2 separate regions of the Homo sapiens genome follow, and region 1 is linked to region 2. The links come from fine-mapping of genetic effects on gene expression. A gene starts in region 2. The other region holds a variant in brackets. All regions are shown on one strand. Distances are between the middles of the regions.

Region 1 (9,840 bases), 240 kb after region 2:
ACCTGGGACAGCCTGTTGCCCAGGGGACCAAGGGCTGGGGACAGTTCTAAGCCGAGGACTGGGTCTTGGGGACACTCGGGCCTCTGGAAGACAAGGCGGGTAGGGTGTCACCTGGGCTTCCCCCCAGGCCGTCTCAGCTCACTGCGCCCCTCCCCGCCACCCTCTCTTGGTGCACAGGGGCTCTGCATGTTTTTATTACCTGTTTGACTCACCGCCTTATTGCTTCTCCCCTTAATGGGGCCGTAACCGTGGAAACGAGGAATAAACGGCCACCAGAAAATGAGATGATTAAACAGGTCACCCTGGCAAACAAACTCAGCCAAGGAACCTCTGGGGGTGGGGACGCTAGGCTGCCCCTCCCCCACCCGTGGCCAGAAGGCCTGGACCAGGTCCTGACCACATTGCCCCACACCTAAAAGGATGGGGGGCAGATGCCGTGGGGCACCCCCTGCCGGGCAGTGGAGAGCCGGGTCATCCTTTTGCGAGGCAGCCCGGCTTCCTGTGGCCTTGGGTTCCCAGGCTGAAGGGGTGACAGACAGGGAGGCACTGGGCTAGAGGGCGGTGAGGATCACAGCTGCAGGGAAGAGGCACTTCCCGGTGACAAAACTTCCAGGAGTCTCTCCCAACAGGCCTCTGGGACGCCTCCTGCTCTCCCGCTGCACTAGGGTCCCCCCATCTAAAGCTCTGCCCGGCTCCTCCAGTCCCCCATTCTCACACAGCGCAGTCCCTCCCAAGGCCCCCTTAGATCACTGAAAGAGCCCCATAAGAAAAGGCCAGGCGACCTTTGGGAACACCTGGTCTCTGGAAACACAACATGTGTCCGTTTCCCAGCTCCTGCCTTCTCCTCCAAAGCCAGGCAGTGCCCCAGCCTCAGCCAGGTGGCATCAAGAGACAGCCCTCTTGGCTTTAGGAAGGGTGTCAGCAGGTGAGTGATTACAGCACCAGCAGGGCCCAGAAGGGCCAGAGGAGACCCCAGAGTCAGGCCTGTGGGACATTCTAAGAGCAGATGCCCCGGCCAGGAGTGGCCCACATACCACGCCCGGGGCAGAGGCCTGAAGCCCTGGCGCCTGGCTGGCCCTCAGTATGGGTGTATCCCTGTCTTTCTGGCCTCACTCCCTGCCCTGGGTTTGTCTAGCTGGAGGGATCCCGGAAGCGGGGAAGAGAATGAGAGAGGGCAGACATGCAGTGGTGAGGTCTGCTCAGGAGGAGAGAGAAAGGGGAGAGGGAGATGGGCAAGGGAGGAAGTGGAGAAGGGCCCAGATCACCCTCTGGCTGCAGCCATCCTGTCCCCACTGGGCAGCAGACTGACGTCCCAGTCCCAGGCCATGGTCATGGTTAGGAGTTACTGTGGGTCCCATTCAACCATCAACACTCCTGTCTTTATCCTTAGGGCTTCCCTGCCCCTTTCACGTCATCCCAAATCCCAGCCTCGCTCCTTCCTGTAAACCAGGCTCTAGAAAGCTCTCAAGGAGCTAAAACCCAGGTCCCAAGGGAATTGGCCAACATTTCCTGCCTTCCTCCTTCTGCCCCCACTAAGAAGCCGGGGAGGCACTTGGGGAAGAGGCACATCAATCAATCAGTTCCACCAGCACTTACAGCAGGAAGGCGTGAGCCCCGGCCCGTACCAGGCCCGGGGAGGAGGTGGCAGTACACCAGCTACCATCTAATGGTCACCATTAGGAGCAGCCGTGGCAGAGGAAAACAAGGGCCCTGGCCTCCTGGGGATCAGGGCACATGAGTCCGAGTGCTGGGTCCTGGCACAGCAACGTCACAGGTCTACCCGGAGCCCCAGAACAGCAGGCTCGCAGCCAGCAGCTTCTCTATCTTTTTCCAGGGCCAACGGGGTGTGAGGCTGGAAAGGTTGCATGGGGCAAGAAAGGTAGCAGGGAGGGCCCGGCTTTAGGGAGCTGGGTGGCCTGGATGAAAAAGACAGAAAAACGTGGTTGCAAAATGGGAAGCAAGAGTTCTGCTCTTGGAGGGAGGGGGAGGACAAGGCGCAGAGAGAAGGGGCTGGCTAGGAGTCTAGAAAGCATGGTGGCGGAGGGAGGTCCCTTAAGGCCACTCTTTCACAAAGCTGCATGGTCCCTGGCTCCTGGCTCCTCGGCCTGGTGGGACAGCAGACCGCTCCTCTCCCTCCACTAGGCAGACGCTGCCAACACAGGGGCCCGGGCAGTCCTCATTTCCGTCCCTCTTGCTGCAGGAGAGCCTCCCATGCCTCCTGGGTTTCAGGCCTCGCCTCCCACATGGGTGTCTTACATCCTGCTGAGTCGAGGGTGTCAGGGTGCTGTTCTGTGGCCAGGCAGCCAGAGGGGTGTGCGCTAGACCACCAAGCTGCTGCCCTGCACAGGTGGTCCCGGCGAGGCTGCCCCTCCTCTTTTGCACACTGGGGCTGCCCGCCCTCCTCCTGCTCCCAGCTTCTCCCTACTCATTGTACCCTGGCCCAGCTACCCCAGAACAGCTGCTGCTTGCCGTGGGGACCCACGGGCGGTAATTACTACAGTGCAACTTCCTTCCCCCTCTGAAGATGAGGAGGAGAAGGAGGAAAAGGAGGAAGAGGTGGGAGCAGCGGCCAGGGTGGTCAGGGTGTAAAAATCAGCTCAGGGAAGGCCGTGTTAGAAGGTGAGCCTTGGGGCCTGGGGGCATGGGGGGTGGGCCAGGTGGAGAAATGGCTGAGCCCTGGAAAAGTGTTGGGCCAGCCGTTCTAGAGGAGGCTGATGGAGGCTGGGGCTGCACCACTGACCTGGCAGGACCCAGGAAGAAGAGGAGTTGGGGCCAAGAGCCTTTCCAAGCCCCACCCAATCCCCTGCTCAGGCAGCGGGCACGGCCTTGAGCCAGGGCAGCCACTTTCACGAGGAGATGCCGCTGCGTGGCTTAGCCCTCCAAAGGTGCCTGCATTTATTTTATTTTTCCATCATAAAAACCCAAGCTGCAGCTCAGCCAGATTCTGGGGCTGTGGGGGCTGGGGGAACACCAGTAGTACCGACAAGGCCAGTAGAGAGGTCTGAGTAACACTCACATTCAGTGCCTTTCTTGGAGAGGAGAGTGAATGGGTTCTCCTCGCTGGTCCCTACCAGGGAAAAAGGGCCAGGGGTGGGGTCTCTCTAGGGAGCCTTTCGGACCTGCCCTTCTGCCTCTGCCTCTTGTTGGGGAGGAAAGGCTATGCTAGGCCTTTTAGCCTCAGTTTCCTCTGACGTCTTGCAACTAGAACCAGGGCTGGTTCAAAGGGTCACTTCACAGCCCAGAGCTGCCTGTCTCCAATGCTCTCCACCAAAGAAAAGGTCCAAATAATGTGCTCCTCACCTCGTCCACTCACCCCCTACTCCCACCCGCCAGGACTGCCCCACTGAACAAAATCAAGTTGGGAGTCAGACAGCTGAAGATCTTAAAGGTCATCTGATGCTCAAGTCCCTCTAAATGTCACTAACCGGTGCACAGCACAAACCTCTGTTTGAATGGTACCAGGAAACTCATGACTTCCGAGATGGCCCATTCTGTCCCGGGCTCTGACAGCTCCTTTCTGCCAAGATGGCCCCAGAGCACCTACCCCCTGCAGCAGACTGGCAAAACCGGTGCCCAACCTGGCTACAGGGGCTGGCCCCAGCTTAGACTGGTTGAGTGGGTGTATCTGGCCAAGTAAAGGCTGGAGGAAGGAAATTGAGAGCAATCTGCTCTGCCCTAAACCCGGCGTGGAATCTCTTCCTCCAGTACAGCACAGGAACCTTCTCAGTCCCCGGTGCCTGGCAGGTCGAAGGTGTAACCAGAGCTAGTGAGGTTCCTAGAAGCCTCCACACTTGGCAAGGCTCTGGCCTTGACCTGGCAGCTCATGGAAGGTCTGATCTGAAGGTGGTTGACACTCAGGGCAGGGGCCTGAGCAGCACACACTGGGGCTGGGTTGGGGATGCCAAGCTCTTTGCTCTCTCAGCTTAGACACCGTCTAGAAGAAGTCTGCGGCCTACCTCAAGACAGTATGCTCTCAAAGCATGGGGCTACTGAGAATCAGGAAAATGAGCCAGCCTGGCCCAGCTTCTGATCCCACGCTTCCTGGCCTCCCCACAGTTGAGGCCTGGGCTGTCTGCGATGGGGGATCTGCTGGCAATGCAAGGGGGTCCTGGCCTGGAGCCCCAGAAGGAGAAAGAAACCGGCCGGGCTTCCTCCCATTGACCCGCCTCGACGACAAGGCTGCAGCCACAGCGACACATGGGCAGCACTGTCCCTCACCGGCACCCCCTGCAGTCCGTGGCCATCCCTTTAAAGTTGCCCTCTTGCCTCTTTGGCCCTTGACCTTGTAGAGCCTATCTTGGCTCCTCCGCGCCTTGGACAGCCCCACCCCTTTGTCTCAAGAAGAGAAGGGGCAACTATCATCAGATCCCCACGAGTCAAGGGCGAACGCCTGCTCAGAGCTCCACCCGTGCTTCACCGCCATTTTCACCCTGGCTTCTAGCTGTGTTCAGGGCCTGGGAATCAGCCTGGTGGGACCTAACCCTGGGAGCTTCCCAACTGCAGGATGGATGTACCTGTGTCTGAAAGCTTCCTCCCATCTCCCCTCCCCCCTTCCCGCTCCCTCCCCCAGGGAAATCACTCTAAAAGGGCCTAATGGAACTATGTCCTCCTCTCTTCCTCTCTCCCCTCCCTCCCTCCCTCCCTCTCTTTCCTTTTTTTTTTATTAGCATTTGTGGAATTTATTCCCAAACTCTCCTAATCTTCCGTACACAACCATTTGATTTGCATAACCCAACCCCCTCTCATAAAAACTGGCTGCTAGTTTAATTAAAAAATGTAAATTTGCTGTCATCTCGGGGCCTGGTGAATTAGGACGACATCGGCATTTTTTATTGCTAAAGACGTCCAGATTGATCCAGCCCTTGGCTGAACTATGGTGGGGGAAAGGGGGTCCACATGGCCCCTGAGGGTCCTGAGGTCCTTCTGTCCCCTCCTGAGAAGGCTTGGCTCTCCCACCACTGACTTCCTCATGGCTGAAGGCCTTCAGGACCTAGATGTGTCCGGG[G/GC]CCGCGGGGATGTTAACCTACGATCAGGGAGGCATGGTGGGTCCATGATGCCAGCAGCCCTTCGAGGCCTGCGCCCCTGGCCTTGGACTATGTCAGAGAGGCCCTCGGCTGAAGCTGCCCACGCTGCCCCAGAGGAAGGGACCCTCACTTCACCAGCCACGAGCCCCGGCCAGAGACGAGGCCCATGGCCCCAGCTGTATGCCGTGTGCACTATGAAGTTGAGGGAGCTGTTCCCAGCTCCTGAAGATGAGCATGGAGTCAGCCCAGGGACCAGCTCAGAGGGGATCTCAGCGTCCTCATCTGCTTCCCTTTTTTGGTGAAGTGGGGGGAAGACTGCTTTTCTTCTGAAGTTCTGAGATTATAAGTGAAACTTCCAAGTTCAAAGAAGAGACTGAGATGGTATCACCAGATGACTCCTCCAGGAAACAGTCAGAACTCTGCCACCCTGGGCCTCCCCTCTGAGTGGCCAGAGTCCAGGCCTGAGTCCCACTGGGAGTGCTCTACTCCAGCTACAGGAGGAAGCAGCTGACCTCAGGGTCCCTTCTAGCTTCTAGGAAAAGTTTCCAGAGCCTGTCCCTGGAGTGCTGGGAGAAGTCAGTCTCCCTAAGGCCCAGGAGAGAAGCCACAAGAGGCTCTGCCACCTGCCTCCTACCAGGGCTGGGAGGCCCTCGCTCCAGTCAGGACACCCTAGAGAAGGGCTTTGGAGTACTGTCCCCACGACAGACTTGGAGGGACTGGTTGGTGGATGGCAGGAGGATGGACGCTGGCTCCAGCTGGCACCCAGGTTAGGAGGAGGCCGACCAGAGGGCCTGCCTTCCAGCTCTGCAATGCCTGGGTCCTGTGTGCTGGCCCACAAGCAGAGGCTCTCCTGCCCCAGGTAAGGGGTGGTGCATTGCCACCAGGCCCATCTCTGAGGTCTGCTTCTTGGCTGGGATGGGTGGGGGCCCCATTTCCGAAGAAAGGGGGTGGGGCCTGAGAGGGAGGTGATGAGACACCGACTGGAGGTGGGGGCAGGCAGGTTCTCTGTGGGAGTGGAGGGCAGGGAGGGGCAGGGTGGCAGCCTTGGCCTTAGACACCTTTACCACTTTGCCCAGCAGGGGGTGTCACACCCTTCCCGGGCGCAGAGGTCCCCAGGCCCTCCACGTCAGACCAGCCAAGATCACACCTGGTGTCACACAGTCCTCAAACTCTGCAAATGACACCTCCCCCCAACAAACACAGGCCCTTCTTCACCGGCCACCGTGCCACCCATCCTCATCCCCTCAGGGCTGCCTCCGGTCTCTCTGCCCACTGACCTTTAGAAGGTCAGATATCAGCTCATGGGTCCCAAGGGCCGATGCTGTGAACTTGGGCCTATTATAAACAACAACGCTAACAGCCACCAGTATCACCTATCCCATCAATGAACCAGGAGAGTTCAGAGATCAGTCTCAATGAATGATCGGGCTGCTTGTTTCTTTTAAAACATTTAAGAAGACAGCTGCTTTTGTCAACCTAGCACGTGAGGGTCCTGGTCAAAATTTGGTTTCAATAGCCAGGGCCCATGGGAAGCCCGCAAGAGCTGAAGGCAAAAACACTGGAAAGAATTAGATTAAACCCAAGAAAACACCAAAATATCAGGATAAACTGCCCCAGGTGAGCACCAGGCCTCCTGGAGCCCCCGGCCTTGTCCCACAGGAGGCCCCCAAACCCAGATGCCTACGTTGAGTAGTCTGTCTGGTCCATCACCACCCCTAGGGTGGGGGCTAAAGAGGCAGGTGGGAGACAGTCCGGGGCCCCTCACTTTGAACTGATAACAGCCACCTCATCCCACAGATTCTCAGGTGAAAAATACTCATTAGCCATAATAAGCAGCTTGATCATCCGACACAGCCTTGTCCCAAATAAATTAAATTCCTTTACCTTGAGACAGTCGCCCCGAAACCAGACTAACCACCTTTCCCAACAGGACGCTGCTTTCAAAAACTAAACCACCCCCCACTAAAAAAATAAAAACACACACCCCAGAGCCAGACACACAAAGATCTTTGCAGAGAACAAAAAAAAAAAAAAAAAAAAAAAAAAGGCACACACACAGAAAAAAAACACGAAGCCATACAAAAAACACGGAGAACAAAAACCCCACAAAAACCCCCTAAATCCTCTCTCTGGGTGCCCCCCAGCTCCTGCTCCTCTCGGTTCTTTCATAATGACAAGCATCACATTAGTCACAGCCTCTAAGCAAGTGGCAAATAACAACAACAACAGCCTCAGAAGTCGCCGATCCCGAGGCCGGGACGCCGGGAGGCAGCCGCCCGACCCTCCCGGCCCCCACCCGGCCCCGCCGCCACCTCATTGGGCTAAAAATAAGAACTTCCGTAAAAGAAGCGAAAGAAAAGTGAAAGAGCCGCCCCTGCGTTCCCACCGGCCGGTACCTGTTCCAAGATCCATTCTCTTCTCCTTGGTCCCAAACTCTTCGCAGAACGCCACCAGGGGAAGACCGGGAGAGAAGAAACACGGGGTTAGCGTCTCGCGGGACCCCGGCCGCCCGCCCTGCTTGTCCCCCGCCCCGCAGGAGCGGCCCGTCCCGGGCGGGCGCCGAGGCCGCGGCGGAGAAACTTTCTCCTCCGCGCCGCCCGCTTCTCACGCTCGGCCCCGCACGCGCCCGCGGGTCCGCGCCGCCTGAGTTTCTCCAACTAAGGCAGCAACTCTCGGCCGGCGCGGCCCCGGCTTGGGGGCCCTGGCCGGGGGATCCGCGAGGCCCAGGGGCGCCCCCGTCCCGCCGACCGCGCCCCGCGCCCGGGTCGCCGCCCGAGACCGCGGCCCCCGGGCCTCCCCCGCCCGCGCCCGGTACTCACCATAGTCGGAGAGTCGAAAGCCGAATTCACTTAAATAATCAACTTTCATAATACTTAATTAATGCCTAATTGCAACTGATTACTCCCCGAATAACAAGTTGTTTTAAAGCCCTGATGTCATTGCTCCTGCCGGTAACACTCAGGGTAACAGTTTGGCAGGAGGGAGCGGGCGGGCGGGCGCGGCCGGGGGCGCTGCCAGGCGCCGCGGTGATTGGCAGGGCGGCCGCGGCGCCGCCTCCTCGGCCCGGCCCGCGCCGGCCCCGGCAGGTGAAAGAGCAGAGCGCGGCCCCGCCGCCGCCGCCGCCGCCGCCGCCGCCGCCGCCGCCCGGTGCGCCCGCCCGCCGCCCGCCGCCCGGTGCCGGAGTGAATGGGCTCGCGCTCGCTCGCGCCCCCGCCGCGCGCCCCCGCCGCGCGCGCCCGCGCCGCACTGGCAGGGCGGCCGGCTCCATTGGCTCTGCGATTCCCCAAACCTCTGGCTCCGGGAGGAGGAGGCGGGGACTTGCGCTCAGGGCTGGCGGGAGGGGACCCGGCGCGGGGCGGGGAACGCGGCCCGAGTAAGGCGCCCGCGGGCACGCGCCCACTCTTGCCGGCCGCCGGCGGCCGCGCGCGCGCTCGCATGCTGCCAGCGGCCGCTCGGGCCCCGCGAGCGCGACCGACGGCCGCCGCGCGCGCCTGCCCCACGACCCGCGCGGCCGCGCTAACTTTTCCGCGAGGGCGGGCGCAGGTGTGAGGCGCCGCGGGGCCGCGCCCGCCAGGCCGCGCGCTTCCCTGCTCCCCTGCCCGCTGCCTGCGGGCTCGGGGCTCCTGGGGTAGCACAGGGATTTCGTGTTCCCCTCACAGCACTGGCGGCTTCTGGAGCTGGAGGAACAGGAGCGCGGGGCGAGGCGGGGCAGGGCGCAGTCAGGCCCGCGCGCCCCCGCACCCCGCGCGTCCCCGGCCCTGGGCCCCAGGAGCGCCGGCCTGGGACACGCAGTGGGGTTTCCTCGGCGTTGCTTTGGTTTTGCCCTTAAAACGGGTCCAAGTGTCCTCCCAGAGCCTCCCCGGTCTTCCGGTCTTTCTGCCCACTCCTCCCTCAAAGTTGGGCCATCCGCCCCGCAGCCAGACGAATGGAGATCGGCGCCCCACTTTCCCCACAGCCCCCGACCCATGATCCCGGCCATCACTTGCGCTTCCTCCCTGCCTTGCCCCTCTGGCCGCTGCCCTAGGAAGGGCGCTCAGTAGAGCACAGGCACCCTCAACCAGGGAGTCTGAGGCCCATCCCGGCTCCTCCTCCCCTCCCCGCCACCCCCCCCCCCCCCGCCCCACGCCGTCTCCAGGCCTGTCCCCTTCAACGTGGAACCTCATTTCCTGCCAGCCCATGGCCAGCCAGGCGCTTTGTGCTGCCCGTGCTCCTCTTTCTTTTCTGCCAGAGAAGGCAGTTTGAGGGTTCTCCCCTCCATGAACCGTGCACCATGGGACATCCCCAGATGTCCCTGCTGCAGCCATATATTTTGAGAGTCCTTATATGTTGGTGACTTAAGTGACGCATCCGGCCCAGAGGGCCTCAAGGAAAGAGACGGTGGGGTGAGCAGGGCCTTGGGCAGCCTTGCTAAGGAAGGACCTGGTTCTCCGTCCCTTCTTCACCTACCCTGCTGCCCTCCTCGCCTCTCCCAGCGCTCCTCTTTCAGGAGGGGCCACACTGCCTTCAGATGAGGGGAGGGGAGCAGGGCCCAGGCTTCCCTGGTCTTTGGACAGCATCCAGCAACATGGCGCTGGCCTATTTTTGCAATATTTCTATTTTGCAAAGGGAGGGGCCAGGGAGGCCTTGGGGCAAAGACATCAGGGAGTTAACAATCTACTCTTTCTCCTACTTTCCCCTCATTTTTCTCCTTTTTTCCTGCTTGCTCTATAGTTCTAAATGGCCTCTCAGGGAGTTGGGCATCCCTCCCCTACTCCACTGCCCTTCCCACTGCCTTCCTGGCAGTCCCCACTCCTGGCCGTCACACAGCCTCATTGGCT
Region 2 (9,521 bases):
ACTCTTTAAACTCCTTATTGGCCAGGTGCAGTGGCTTGTGTCTGTAGTCCCAGCAACTTGGAAGGCTGAGGCAGGAGATTCACTTGAGTCTGGGAGTTTGAGACCAGCCTGGGCAGCACAGTGAGACCCCATCTCTAAAAAAAGTAAAAAATAAGTTAGGCATGGTGATGCATGCCTGTAGACCCAGTTAGCTACTCAGGAGGCTGAGGCAGACGGTTGCTTGATCCCAGGAGTTCAAGGCTTTAGTGAGGTGACTGTGCTACTGCACTGCAGCCTGGGTGACAGAACAAGACCCCGACTCTAAAAAATAAAATAAATTCGGGAGGCTGAGGCAGGAGAATCGCTTGAACCCAGGAGGCAGAGGCTGCAGTGAGCCGAGATTGTGCCACTGCACTCCAGCCTGGGTGACAGAGTGAGACTAAGTCTCAAAATAAAATAAAATAAAGTAGAATAAAATAGATAAAATAAATAAATAATAAAACTCATCAAGAAGAGTTTAGGGAATAGATACTATAGACTTTCCAAAGGTTGAAAGATCTGGGTTTGCTTCTTGGGTTTGCAACCCTAGTAGCTGTATAACTTTCAGAGACTTTGTGCTTTTTTTTTTTCATTGAGACAGCGTCTCACTCTGTCACCCAGACTAGAGTGCAGTGGCACAATCATGACTCACTACAGCCTCCACCTCCCAGGCTAAAGTGATCCTCCTGCCTCAGCCTCCTGAGTAGCTGGGACTACAGGCATGCGCTACCATGCCTGCCTAATTTTTTAGTTTTTTTTGTGGAGATAGGGTCTCAGAATGTTGCCCAGGCTGGTCTCAAGCTCCTGAGCTGGACTCAAGTGATCCTCCTGCCTCAACCTCCCAAAGTGCTGAGATTATAGGCATGAGTCACTGCACCTGGCCTTTTCTTTTTTCTTTTCTTTTTCGAGATGGGCTCTTGCTGTGTACAGTGGTATATCACAGCTCACTGCAGCCATGAATTCCTGGGCTCAAGCAATCCTCCTGCCTCAGCCTCCCAAGTACCCAAGACTGCAGGTGTGTGTTACCACACCTGGCTAAGTTTTCTTTTCTTTTTGAGACAAGGTCTCACTTTGTCGCCCATGCTGGAGTACAGGGGCTCAATCTTGACTCACTGCAGCCTCTACCTCCCAAGCTCAGGTGATCCTCCTGCCTCAGCCCCCCAAGTAGCTGGGGCCACAGGTGTGTGCCACCATGTCCAGCTAGTTTTTTTTTTTGTTTTTTTTTTTGGTAGAGGTGAGGTTTTGCATGTTGCCCAGGCTAGTCTTGAACTCCTGGGCTCAAGTGATCCTCCTGCCTCAGCCTCCCAAAGTGCTGGGATTATAGGCATGAGTCACTGCACCCGGCCTTTTTTTTTTTTTTTTTTTTTTTGAGATGGGCTCTTGCTATGTCAGCCAGGCTGCAGTACAGTGGCATGATCACAGCTCACTGCAGCCACGAATTCCTGGGTTCAAGCAATCCTCCTGCCTCAGCTTCCCAAGTGCCCGAGACTGTAGGTGTGTGTTGCCACACCTGGCTAAATTTTTTCTTTTTTTTTTTTGTCATAAAGTCTCACTTTGTCACCCATGCTGTAGTGCAGTGGCACAATCTTGGCTCACTGCAGCCTTGACCTCCCATGCTCAGGTGATCCTCCTACCTCAGCCCCCTAAGTAGCTGAGACCACAGGTATGTGCCTCCACGTCCAGCTAATTTCTGTAGAGATGGAGTTTTGCCATGTTGCCCAGGCTGGTCTTGAATTCCTGGGCTCAAGCGAATCTCTCGCCTCAGCCTCCCAAGTAGTCAGGACTGCAGGTGTGCATTGCCATGCCTGGCTAAATTTTTGTTTTTTTTTGGTAGAGATGGGGTCTTGCTATGTTGCCCAGTCTGGTCTTGAACTCCTGGGCTTAAGTGATCCTCTTGTCTCCACCTCCTAAAGTTTGTCACCTTCTTGAAACAGTCATTATCAGTTCTCATGAAGCCTTCCCCAATTTGCAGCACATTCCCCTTTGCACACTTCTTCTCGCACTGAAAAATGTCCTTGTCTTTCATTTGTGTCTATGTATCCGATTTCTTTGAGGCTGCAACACCTCTGTCAGGGTGTGGGTGGTGTGGGTCCCTTGTGGTATTGCAAGTTCCATACTGGGTGCTCAGAATGTTTAATGAGCTCATTGAATAAAATTGGCACACTAGACTAACGATATAGGAAGCTGGTGAGGCCGGGTGTGGTGGTCTCATGCCTGTAATCCCAGCACTTTGGGAGGCTGAGATGGGTGGATCACTTGAGTTCAGAAGTTTGAGACCAGCCTGGCCAACATGGTGAAATCTCTACTAAAAATACAAAAATTAGCTGGGCGTGGTGGCTCCTGCCTGTAATCCCAGCTACTTGGGAGGCTGAGACAGGAGAATCCCTTGAACCTGGGAGGCAGAGGTTGCAGTGAGCTGAAGTTGTGCCACTGCACTCCAGCCTGGGTGACAGAGCAAGACTCCGTCTCAAAAACAAAAAGAAGCTGGCTGAACTGCTGTGAATGTCTCATCTGCAAATATAACTCAAAATTTTTAGTGTCATTTGTGGGAATTATTTTGGTACAGAAATAAAAGATGGGCCAGGTGCGGTGGCTCATGCCTATAATCCCAGCACTTTGGGAGGCCGAGGCGGGCGGATCACGAGGTCAGGAGATCGAGACCATCCTGGCTAACACAGTGAAACCCCATCTCTACTAAAAATACAAAAAAATCAGCCGGGCGTGGTGGTGGGCACCTGTAGTCCCAGCTACTCAGGAGGCTGAGGCAGGAGAATGGTGTGAACCTGGGAGGCGGAGTTTGCAGTGAGCTGAGATCGAGCCACTGCACTCCAGTCTGGGCAACAGAGTGACTCCATCTCAAACAAAAAAAAACAAAAAACAAAATAAATAAAAGATGAAGCAACATACGATGTATAAGCCTCTGGCCAGCAGGCCATGCTGATCTTACCTAGGATTTTAACATAAGCAAAAAGACTGTGACAAATTCAAGATTGAGATTTCCCTGCTGAAGGTGTAAACCAGGACTTTGGAAAACTGAAAACAAACATGTTCACTTCTAGAAAGTGCCGGCAGTTTTGGGTTGCGTTACCTCAATTTATAGCCTTGCCTTGGATGCTGGTCATCTGTAGCAGGTTTGGGTGGATGTTTCAGATTTTACTCGGTGTCTCGTTGGGCAAAGGGGTCTGTGCATTTGTCTGTGTGATTCAGCAATGAGGGCCTGTGAGGAAGAACCAGCAGGTGGCACAGAGAGGGACTCCATGGTCTGCACTCTCAGCAGTGGTGCCAGCCTCAGGAGGAGAGAGAGCCCTGGGAGCTGGCCAAGGGCAGGGCCGGGCACTGCTTCCCAAACTGACTGTGCCCTGCAGTAACAGCACATCTCACACCTGACACACACAATGCGAATCATTATTTATCCTTACTACGGGTGATGCACACTAATTTTAATTTCATTCGAAAGGAAAGTACTGGCCTATGACCCACAAGTGGGTGGTCAGGAGCAGTTTAGAAAACACTGGACCAGGCCGGGCGCGGTGGCTCACGCTTGTAATCCCAGCACTTTGGGAGGCCAAGGCGGGCAGATCATGAGGTCAGGAAATTGAGACCAGCCTGGCTAACATGGTGAAACTCTGTCTCTACTAAAAATACAGAAAATTAGCTGGGCATGGTGGCCAGCGCCTGTAGTCCCAGGTACTTGGAGGCTGAGGCAGGAGAATTGCTTGAACCCGGGAGATGGAGATTGCAGTGAGCCAAGATCATGCCACTGTACTCCAGCGTGGGTGACAGAGCGAGACTCCATCCAAAAACAAAAAGAAAACACTGGTCCAGGCTGGGGGCAGTGGCTCACACCTGTAATTCCAGCACTTTGGGAGGCCGAGGTGGGTGGATCACCTGAGGTCGGGAGTTCGAGACCAGCATGACCAACATGGAGAATCTCCGTCTCTACTAAAAATACAAAATTAGCCAGGCGTGGTGGCACATGCCCGTAATCCCAGCTACTCGAGAGGCTGAGGCAGGAGAATCACTTGAACCCGGGAGCCAGAGGTTGCGGTGAGCCGAGATCACACCATTGCACTCCAGCCTGGGCAACAAGAGCGAGACTCCATCTCAAAAAAAGAAAACACTGGACCATCAAGAGTTCGAGACCAGCCTGGCCAACGTGGTGAAACCCTGTCCCTACAAAAAATACAAAAATTAGCCAGGCATGGTGGCGGGTGCCTGTAATCCCAGCTACTCGGGAGGCTGAGGCAGGAGAATCACTTGAACCCAGGAGGCGGAGGTTGCAGTGAGTTGAGCGCGCCATTGCACCCCAGCCTGGGTGGGCCAGAGCCCGGCTGCCCCAGGGCCAGCAGTGCCTGGGTGCTTGTTGGAAATGCAGCTCTCAACTCCTCCCTGCCCCAGTGCATCAGGACCTGCCTGCAAAGTGATCCGTCTGCACTTCAGTTTGAGAAGGCCTGGCCTAGAGGACAGTGGGTCTGGCATGCTGGGCTGAGAGGCAGTACTGGGAGCGATTCTTGGGGCCTCCTTGCCGACAATTGGGTGAAACCAGCGGATACGATCGTAGCGTCTCTGAGCCCCCATTGCCTCCTTGTTTCTCTGCCCATAGTAGAAGAATGTCTCTGAAATTACTGGATGAGTTTCAGTCATACTTTCACATGGGCACAATTTCACATTCAAGCTCCTTATCCTAGGCTAATTTTATATTATGTTAAATCACTTGTTTTTGTTCTCACGGCTTCCTGCCTGCTATAGGCATAATTACGAGGAAGCAGAACTTCTCCAGAAGCAAGCGCACATGCGTTCCAAAATAAGAGCAAATTCGCTCTAAACACAGGAAAAGACCTGAAGCTTTAATTAAGGGGTTACATCCAACCCCAGAGCGCTTTTGTGGGCACTGATTGCTCCAGCTTCTGCGTCACTGCGCGAGGGAAGAGGGAAGAGGATCCAGGCGTTAGACATGTATAGACACAAAAACAGCTGGAGATTGGGCTTAAAATACCCACCAAGCTCCAAAGAAGAGACCCAAGTCCCCAAAACATTGATTTCAGGGCTGCCAGGAAGGAAGAGCAGCAGCAGGGTGGGAGAGAAGCTCCAGTCAGCCCACAAGATGCCATTGTCCCCCGGCCTCCTGCTGCTGCTGCTCTCCGGGGCCACGGCCACCGCTGCCCTGCCCCTGGAGGGTGGCCCCACCGGCCGAGACAGCGAGGTGAGTACAGTCCCGACGTGGCCACACGCTAGCCCACTCTCTGTCTCTTGTTGGCTTTTTGGCCTGCATGGTGTGTGTGTGTGCACGTGTGTTGCACTTCACAGCTTGGACAGGACACACGGCTCAACTTTGTAGTGTTCTTGGCTGGCCCGAGGTACTGGGATGCCGCATTCAGACCACTGATCCTCAGTTACATGTCCCAACCCATGAAGCCTGCTGGAAACCTGTGCAGCTCAAGGAGGGCCCTCCGTCGGGTGTCTGGGAAAGGGGAAGCGAGTGTACCCGTCCACTGCAGGGCAGGCATGGAGCTGCGACAGCCCTTCCAGAGCCTTCAGTTATACATAGCACAGGCTCCCACTGGCTCAGAGTAATTGGCATCATTACATTTTCCGTTGTGAGAATTTGTAACTTCGTGAGGTGATTGATTGTTCTTTTTTCCATTTTGAGAAAGTTCCAAGAAAGGGTATATAAAGTTGAGCATTAAAAATGGATTTTTCTCTAAAATTACCAGATGAGTTTCAGGCAGGCCATTTATCAGCAGATTACTCCCAGAAGCTTTCTAAGGAATTTGAAAAACCAGAATATAACGTTTGTTTCAGTCCCATCGTCTCAGAAAGCAACTTGTGAACATCCAGGAGTGTGGCCAAAGGTGGGAGAATGAGTAAATTAGCCTGATCCAACTCCGGGCTTCTCAGCTGCCAGTCACTGAGGGGAAAATGGCAGATTTCCCGACCTCTCCTAATTAAGGACCTTAGCAGAGTATGGAGCAAAACCAGGTTTCTTCCCTTGACTTAAAATGACCAACTTTTCTCTAATTAAAGCAATTTCTTTAAGGTATTCTCTTCACTTTCTCATCCTCATCCGTTAAATGGAAATGAGGCTTATCGCTATGGAGCATCTTTTCATTTTAATATTTTCTTTCTCTTTTCTCCAGGGTAGTCTTTTAGATCATTTTTTTTTTTAAGTAAGGAGGAGATTGCATATCTTTGAATGCTTGCTGCCTGAGCCAGATTGCTGAGTTTTCTTTCCTTTGCCATCTGCTTCTCTTTAAAAGCATATGCAGGAAGCGGCAGGAATAAGGAAAAGCAGCCTCCTGACTTTCCTCGCTTGGTGGTTTGAGTGGACCTCCCAGGCCAGTGCCGGGCCCCTCATAGGAGAGGAAGCCCGGGAGGTGGCCAGGCGGCAGGAAGGCGCACCCCCCCAGCAATCTGCGCGCCGGGACAGAATGCCCTGCAGGAACTTCTTCTGGAAGACCTTCTCCTCCTGCAAATAAAACCTCACCCATGAATGCTCACGCAAGTGTAATGACAGACCTGAATAAAATGTATTAAGCAGCAGTGATCTTTCCTCTCCTCCTTCCCAAGTCATTTGAAAAGTGTTTGTTATTTAAATTCCAATAATGCCCAATACTGACGTGTCTTGAGTAATTTGGAACCCAAAGTGAAGATCTTTGATAAAGATTTTTTTGTGGTTCGACTGGACTGTGCTGAGTGCGGGCACTGGGCTTTTCTTCTGATGTTCATTATGGTGCTGGGAAGCTCTGTCTTTGATTTAAAATAAAATAGCTAAAGGCTACACAATTAAGAGTTCAGAATAACATCTTATTTCAGTTTATGAATTGATATGAATTGTCTAATTTAAAAAATATTTCCCTCACATTAAAAGCAAATTTTTAATATCAGGCTCGAAGAGCAAAATGATTATTCCTCATGTTTTAGCTGAAATTAATTTTAAAACATATTAAACAGAAAACCTGCTGACATGCCTGTGAAACTGATACTCGAACTTGCTGTTATGTACCAGTTTTAATTAGTAGCTTAATGGGTTGCAATTCTTTTCATGGATTATAGCTTCAGATTTGCTTTGGGAGGAATGAAGGCTACCCACAGAATTTTTTTTTTTTTGAGACGGAGTCTAGCTGTCACCCAGGCTGGAGTGCTATGGCGCGGTCTCAGCTCACTGCAACTTCCGCCTCCCAGGTTCATGTGATTCTCCTGCCTCAGCCTCCTGAGTAGCTGGGACTACAGCATGCGCTTCCATGCCTGGCTAATTTTTTTTTTTTTTTTTTTAGATGGAGTTTCGCTTTTGTTGCCCAGGCTGGAGTGCTATGGCACGGTCTCAGCTCACTGTGGCTTCCGCCTCCGAGGTTCAAGTGACTCTCCTGCCTCAGCCTCCCAAGTAGCTGGGACTACAGGCACACACCACCACGCCTGGCTAATTTTTGTATTTTTAGTAGAGACGGGGTTTCTCCATGTTGGTCAGGCTGGTCTCGAACTCCTGGCTTCAGGTGATCCACCTGCCTTGGCCTCAGAAAGTGCTGGGATTACCAGCGTGAGCCACTGCGCCTGGCCATGAAGGTTTTTCGATGCTAAACTTCATTGGGAAAACCAGCAAAGGCTGGCTGGAGGACACGGGAATATTCTCTTCTCTGGACACCAGGGGAGCGGACTCCCTGAGAATGGCTGCTGACCGTCCGTTGTTTTCTGCCGAGCTGAGCTCATATTCATAATTACTAGCTGAATAAAGTATAATGTGATGGAAGAGACTTAATAGCATCCACGTTTCCAAACACAGCAGCTTTAGGAGACCAGGAATTGGGTCAGTGCACTGGTGGAAGATGCCTGCCTGAAAGGCCAGCTAACCTTCCAGAACTTTGTTTTTTTTAAAGATTTTTTCTAGAAAGAAGCCATGCTTATTGTTTTTCAGTTTTTAAATTGGGGTCGGCAGGGCGCGGTGGCTCATGCCTGTAATCCCAGCACTGTGGGAGGTTGAGGCAGGCAGATCACTTGAGGCCAGGAGTTCGAGACCAGCCTGGCCAACATGATGAAACCCTGTCTCGACTAAAAATACAAAAATTACCCAGGCGTGATGGTGCACCCCTGTAATCCCAGCTACTTGGGAGGCTGAGGCACGAGAATCACTTGAGCCTGGGAGGCGGAAGTTGTAGTGAGCCGAGGTCATGCCACTGTACTCCAGCCTGGGTGACAGAACGAGACTCTGTCTCAAAAATAATAGTAAAATAAGATAAAATAGGGGCTGGGCGTGGTGGCTCACACCTGTAATCCCAGCACCTTGGGAGGCCGAGCTGGGTGGATCACCTGAGGTCGGGTGTTCAAGACCAGCCTGATCAACGTGGTGAAACCCTGTCTCTACTAAAAACACCAAAAATTAGCCGGGCTTGGTGGCACATACCTGTAATCCCAGCTACTCAGGAGGCTGAGGCAGGAGAATCACCTTAACCCGGGAGGCAGAGATTGCAGTGAGCCAAGATTGTGCCACTGCACTCCAGCCTGGGCGACAGAGTGAGACTCCGTCTCAAAAAATAAAATACATTGGGGTCATCCACACAGACTTTAAGATTGGGGATTTTACCTTTTAACTAAGTAGTTATCTGTAGGATAATGAGGCTCTACTAGTGCTACTGCCAGGAAATTCAAGTCTAAGCCTACCTTAGTTCAGGGGACTTCATACGACATTAACTGGCATCAGCTGCATGTTAGACCAGATGAATATGCTTGTGATTAATAAATCAGGGTAAAATGGTCATTTCCCACCATCTGGTTTTTGGTGGCCTTTTCTGTAGTTCAGTAGAGTCAGGTGTGTAGATCTGGGTAATCAGGCCCTGGGCAACTTCAAGTTCATGCTCTTGTTATTTTGTCCAGGATTTGGCACCAGAACAGCTCCCTAACTGCTGAGGAGGAATGAAGGACAACAGACACTCACAGCTTTCCTATTTCAGGGCTGGCAGCAAAGGATTCCAGGCTTTAGGAAACTCCTCAGACTGGGAAGCTCAGGGGAGATACTTACCTTGATGTAAGCAGCACCTGTTGAAGGGCAGCCCGTCTTTTTTTTTTTTTTTTTTTTTTTGAGACAGAGTCTCCCTCTGCCACCCAGGCTGGAGTGCAGTGAAGTGATCTTGGCTCACTGTAAGCTCCACCTCCCGGGCTCAGGTCATTCTTCTGTCTCAGCCTCCCGAGTAGCTGGGACTACAGGCACCCGCCACCACACCCAGCTAATTTTTTCTATTTTTTTGTAGAGATGGGGTTTCACCGTGTTAGCCAGGATGGTCTCGATCTCCTGACCTTGTGATCCACCCACCTCAGCCTCCCAAAGTGCTGGGATTACAGGTATGAACCACCGCGCCTGGCCAGGGGCAGCCCATCTTAAAAACAGTAGCGTTTTCCATAGAGAGAGAGGTTTCATTTGGAATGTTTTAGGCCGTTCTTGTGCTGCTATAAAGAAATACCTGGCCAGGTGCGGTGGCTCACGCCTGTAATCCCAACACTTTGGGAGGCCGAAG

Alleles and levels. Alleles are on the strand shown, and positions count from the first base shown. SD is a standard deviation of normalised expression in the study named.
For the expression in nucleus accumbens of the gene that starts at base 4,930 in region 2, allele G in region 1 goes with a lower level than allele GC (large effect, 1.2 SD a copy in GTEx).

What was found. PIP is the estimated chance that this variant, and not a neighbour inherited with it, causes the effect.
Region 1: its variant is fine-mapped to the expression of CORT in nucleus accumbens (GTEx, PIP 0.98).

The regions. Positions count from the first base shown.
Region 1 is chr1:10,686,455-10,696,294 of GRCh38, forward strand. CASZ1 (castor zinc finger 1) reads right to left here. Exons shown (of 21, transcript NM_001079843.3): 4 at 7,420-7,458. The coding sequence starts at 7,435. Among named protein-coding and RNA genes, the nearest start is that of CASZ1, 110 kb to the right of the region's middle. RefSeq lists enhancers at 1-267, 268-868 and silencers at 1-172, 7,585-7,674, 7,975-8,144, 8,255-8,454, 8,465-8,524. The variant G/GC (reference allele first, on the strand shown) is at 5,006.
Region 2 is chr1:10,445,102-10,454,622 of GRCh38, forward strand. It overlaps CORT (cortistatin), which reads left to right and starts at 4,930. Exons shown (of 2, transcript NM_001302.5): 1 at 4,930-5,221; 2 at 6,276-6,897. The coding sequence starts at 5,123. The coding sequence ends at 6,494. CENPS-CORT (CENPS-CORT readthrough) reads left to right here. Exons shown (of 4, transcript NM_199006.3): 4 at 6,276-7,052. The coding sequence ends at 6,300.